Regions from separate parts of the Homo sapiens genome. Here region 1 is linked to region 2. Evidence: fine-mapped expression QTL. A gene starts in region 2. The other region holds a variant in brackets. All regions are shown on one strand. Distances are between the middles of the regions.

Region 1 (3,032 bases), 78 kb before region 2:
GAGGTAAATGTGGGAGTCTGAATCACTGGGGAAAAGAGAAGAGTTGGTGACTGAGGGGACCAACGAGGCTGCAGAGGAGGATGGATGCCTTTTTCTATAAGGGTTTTTCTGTGGCCCTTTGATCATTATGTGAGCAAGCTAAATGAATTAAAATCAGAAAATCTGAAAATCTAACACGAAATAACATTTGTACACTGAGGAGGGTAAGAAAAAATGCACTCATTACCCCTTTCAGATTATGCCAATAAACTGGGCATTTTTGGTTTGAGTCAATGCAGGACAATGTATGGTCTTTAGTCCCATTTTCTGTTGCCTATAACAGAATACCTGAAACTGGGTAATTTATAAGAATATATTAATTTCTTACAATTCTAGAGGCTGAGAAATCCCAGGTTGAAAGGCCATATCCAGTGAGAGTCTTGTTGCTAGTGGGAACTCTCTGAAGGGTCCCGAAGGAGGTTATCACCTGGTGAGGAAGCTGAGTGTACTAACATGCTAGCTCAGATCTTTTTCTCGTCTTATAAAGCCACTGGTTCTCCTTTCATGATAACACATTAATCCATGAATAAATTAAACCACTCATGAGGGCAGAACCTTCATGATCCAATCACTTCTTAAGGGCTCCACCCCACCTCTCAATACTGCCACATTGCGGATTAAGTTTCAACATGAATTTTGGAGGGGCTATTCAAACCACAGCAATAAGAACTAAGTAAAACAATGAAGGTGGTATATAATTGTGGAAAGCTTCATCCATTTATAAAAAAAATTTGCTGAGTTTCTCCAGTATACCAGACCTGTTATATATGTTGGGATACAACAGTGACCATGACAAACAGAGTCTTGATATCTTGAAGCTCACTTTCATCTTCTGATGCAGCTCTCTCTATATTTGAAACATGATCATCTATATATTTAATGTGATTATCAAGACCATACTTATTTGAGTTGGGGGGTATGCCTTATTGTTCTCAGTATTCCTAGCACCTAATACCCTGACTGACACACAGAAAGTACAAAAAGGTATTTGTTGATGGTCCGGGCACGGTGGCTCATGCCTGTGATCCCAGCACTTTGGGAGGCTGAGGAGGGTGGATCACTTGAGGCTAGGAGTTTGAGACCAGCCTGGCCGATATAGTGAAACCCCATCTCTACTAAAAATACAAAAAATTAGCTGGGCATGGTGGCACACCTGTAATTCCAGCTACTCAGGAGGCTGAGGCAGAGAATCACCTGAACCTGAAAGGCAGAGGTTGCAGTGAGCCGAGATTGCGCCACTGCATTCCACCCTGGGCAACAGAACAAGACTTTGTCTCAAAAAAAAAAAAAAAAAAAATTGTTGATGGAATAAGTGAATTCATTTGCAGTAAGAATAACATAACTCATGAAATGCATCCAAAATACACATGTTGTTAATTTAGCAT[T/G]ACTAAAACTTCATGAAACCAAAATTCCTCTCATATATTCGGAAATGTAGCACAAAAAAGTGTTTTGATTAGTGAAATTATGTAGAAAAATATACCTAAAAAGGATATATTCAGAGATAGTCAGGAGTTATTTTCATTTTCTTCCATTATGGCTATTTATTTGTGCCAAAAAATTGCTGTTAGAAGTTGTTTTTAAAAATAGAATCTTTAAGTGGTACATTAAATCCAGCTGGCTTCAAACGGTACAGGGTGGTGGTGTTGGGGGGAGGGTCACAGATGGCCAGATCTCTAGGGAATTCTATGACCTCAGTGATGACTGACTAAAATTCCTGGACTTTTCCTGGACTTTTCTTGTGAGAGGAATTCTACAGTTGATAATTATTGATAATTATCAATTCTTGTTCCCTGATAGTTATTGTTATTACTTTTTATTGAGGTAAAATTCACATAAGATAAAGTTATTTTGAAGTGTGCAATTCAGTGACTTTGAGTACATTCACAATATTATACAACTATCACTTCTCTCTAGTTTCAAAACACTTTCATCACCCCAAAAGAAAACCTCATACCCATTAAGCAGTCACCCTGAGAATTATTTAATCTCTGGCTCCACATAATAAGCACCAATCCTATCAGCTCTGTAATAGAAAAATAACAGGAAAAGTATTTTCCTCCAAAAAGTATAAAAATTGTAACTTTAATAATAGGGTTTGCAAGGCCAGTCAAGGGCTAGCCTGTGATCCTTTGAGTGATGCCGTGGTGACCTCTGATGCTGAACATATGGGCATGGTCTGACCTCCAGATGGGCAGCAGGTGTATCTCTGCATAGGCCTCTGAGAAAGCTACCTGGGATGATCCTGGAAGACCAAAATGTCAACTGAGTTTTTAAGTGTATTTAAGGTTTTCAGACTTAAATGATTTTTGAATTGTCAAACACCACGCAAAGAGTAGATATGGTAAGTGATTAAAAAAGCACATTAAATATAAATGGATTGAAATGTGAAAAAAGCCACAAACACTACACACTGACAGCCTTTAGGAAATGCCTCTTTACAACCTTGACTTTCTTGATGAGGAATTTGTGCTGGTAAAGGGGCTTTCGTTTATTTAGGGGATGGACCGAGAGGCTTCCTGAGGAGAAAATCTATTTTAAGGCAAGACCATGAAGGAGGAGTTTGGGCTGGAAACAAAGGCTAAGTCACCAAAGGGGTGTGACCTTTCTGATTCCAGGGTTATATTGTCATTCAGATTACTTTCCTAGCCCAGATTCTCTTTGAGGTCATGTTTGGATGGGGTAGAGTAGGAACATGGTAAATAAAAAATTGAAAATGGAAAGAGCTGCTTATCTAAGAGGGAGTCCTAAACTAGGCTAAGGTAGCTTTTCCACTCAACAAAGATGTGTGGAAAGCACTATGTGCTGGGCATTTGTTAAACATGGAAGATACAATGGTAAACAGGACAGATATACTCCCTGTCTCCAAGAATTTTACAGTCTAAAGGTAGATATTTAAAATAGGACTACATAAATATTGACTACAATAAAGACTACAGAGGAATAGTTCACTAGGCAACGGCAGTGTTTAATGGCAGAACTCTAACCCAGTCTGG
Region 2 (2,500 bases):
GTGCGGCAGGGACATTTCCGCATTGAAGGGGCTGCTCCGAATGGAGGGGGAGGGGAGGTGTTTAGGAGAAAGTAGGGGCTGTGGGTGTCGGGAGCCGGCTGACGGGTGGACAAGGGGGGGTTAGCAGCTGGGCTGCGACCGTTAGGGAGGGGCTCAAGGTGTGCATGTGTGAGGGAAGAGAGAGAGAGAGAAGGGCGCCTCAGAGGTGACTTTCAGCCTGCGAGCCTTCTTCCCGGGGCGCCATAAACGCCCCCAATTTCCCAGCTGCTAAAGGAAGAGGAAGGTGGGTCTCGCTGGCGGCTTGAGGAGGGGCGGGGTTGGGCTTCCGGCGACCCCCTGGATGAGTGTGTTTCCCGCTCTCGCTGGCCCGCTGTGTGGTCTCGGAGGCGGAATTTGGGCTTCTGAGGAGCGCAGGGCAGGCGGGGCGAGAATATGTACGGGAAGGGTCGGTGCCCTCCCTTGGGACTCCCGCGCCGGTGCACGGGTCTGCCTCTAGCCGGTGACCCCTTAGTGTCCGCTGCGGGGGAGGGGCAGCGTAGCCTTCGGCCCCTACCGAGAAAAAGCTGCGGCCGGGTTTCACTGCTCGAGGCGGGAAGGCGGGGAGCTGAGGCCCCGACCGGTCGGCCAGCCAGAGCGTGGAATTGGTAGCGCCTCCTAGTCCCAGGATGTTTATGGCTGGTGAAAATGGTTGCACTGCCCCCGCTGGCCGGCCTCGCCCGCCTCCCCGACCCCTGCTTGGGCGGGAGCCGCTGTTAACCGGGGTTTTCGGGGGAGGCGTTTGGGGCCTGGACGGCGGCGCGGGGAGGGGGCAGCTAGGGGCGCGGCCTGCCAGTGCCTCCTGCAGTACAGCCCTGGAGGGCGTGGGGACTTGGGGGCGGTGAAATAGCCGCTGTAGGTCCGCCTCTTTCATTGAAGAAATTTAAGTTCGTGTGGTTTTACCTTTTCCGGGAGTCTCCAGCTGGCCCTCATTTGTGTCCGGAGCTCAGGAGTTCCCAAACCGACTCAGTCGCACCAAGTTTCCGTCTTTTGGAATTGGGGAAGGAGTTTCTTTCTTTCTTTTCTTTTTTCTTGAGCCAGTTTTAATCGCTTTGAATAAATACTCCCTTAAGTAGTTAAATATAGGAGGAGAAAGAATACATCGGTTGTTAAAGCAGGAGAGGAAGAGAGACCTGCCCTGTAGCGTGACTCCTCTAGAAAAAAAAAAAAAAAGCCGGAGTATTTTACTAAGCCCCTAAAATGTCGAGATTTGTACAAGGTAAGAAATGCTGCTGCTTATATCCCGAGTTGCTTCAGGCAAATTTGGGTACTGACAGTGGAGAGGTTGGTGGGTGGTTTGGAAGTGGAAATGTTCATTTGAGATAACATTTGCGAAACCCTTTTCGTTGAATTGTCATCTGAGCTGCCTTGAGCTGCTGGGTTGACGTTCCAGACGCGTATAATTTATGCTCCTGTACCCTGCTGGGTTTAGTTTTGCCTCCCTGAAATCAGGTTAGTAGTACCGTCGCTTTCCTGGATAGTGGCTGTAAGTGATAAAACAGGATTTTTGGCTGCTAATTAATCCTTGTTCTCTTTTCCTGGTCTGTGTCAAGGTACCTGTGCGTGCACGCAGACGGGAAGGGCTGGGGAAGCGGGAGGACTGAGAAAAGCCGGGTGGGTTTTGCCGGGACTGTTGGGGAAGCTTTAGTGTTCTCCGCTTCTACTTCGTTTGTGTGTACGTGGTTTGCGTCTCAGATTCACTTATTGCGAAACTGGGAGTAGCCCGAAGAAGCTGGAGGTCATTTCAGCTGGAGAAATGACTTTGCTGCATTGCTGTGTTTATTTTTTCCTTTTTTGAACTATGAAAAGATGATTAAGGTTCCTTTGAAGTTTGAAAACTGCTCTCTAAATTCCACATGTGTATTTAAAAAGGGTTAGGGAATGCCTCAACTGAGATTATCAGTAACGTGTATATGAATGCATGTGTGTACGGTGTACTCACTGAAATTGGTGCTGGCATAAACCTTTGACACCAGTTTGTAGCATGAGATTTGCCTTCTGGTATGCAAGTAAACTCTTTCCTTGTAGACTCCAGTGTGTGAAAGCTTCAGCCATCTTGATGAACACACAGCTAGTAAAGTTCACAAACACTTATTATGCTTCCTGATAAATGTAGGTGTACTTTTGGAAAAAAAAAGTTGTGTCAGTAATGGCCATCATTTGACCCTGGGAATAAAAATGCCCTACTGAGTTCTACATCGCTTTATTAACTCTTCTTTAAATTTTGTGTAGTAGATTAAAGTAAGAGAATTCGACTGCCTGTGTTATTATCGAAACAGATCGAACGCTATGCTTGCCTTTAGCGCTAAGCTCAGAAATGTCACTTGTTATTAGACTTTCAAATTCATGTTATACCTTATATGTGGTAAGAGATGCTTATGTTCTGATTGAGTAAATGTCTTATTCAAGAATAGAAAGGCAGAACTGTTAGAAACGTACTGGTTTTGTAATAACAATATTCAGT

Which allele goes with the higher level. Alleles are on the strand shown, and positions count from the first base shown. SD is a standard deviation of normalised expression in the study named.
As copies of G replace T in region 1, the expression in fibroblasts of the gene that starts at base 947 in region 2 goes up (small effect, 0.18 SD a copy in GTEx).

What was found. PIP is the estimated chance that this variant, and not a neighbour inherited with it, causes the effect.
Region 1: its variant is fine-mapped to the expression of UGP2 in fibroblasts (GTEx, PIP 0.98).

What each region holds. Positions count from the first base shown.
Region 1 is chr2:63,762,186-63,765,217 of GRCh38, forward strand. It overlaps a transcript of WDPCP not described here. Among named protein-coding and RNA genes, the nearest start is that of UGP2, 78 kb to the right of the region's middle. The variant T/G (reference allele first, on the strand shown) is at 1,425.
Region 2 is chr2:63,840,950-63,843,449 of GRCh38, forward strand. UGP2 (UDP-glucose pyrophosphorylase 2) reads left to right here and starts at 947. Exons shown (of 10, transcript NM_006759.4): 1 at 947-1,255. The coding sequence starts at 1,237. RefSeq lists enhancers at 1-133, 1,004-1,053 and a silencer at 594-903.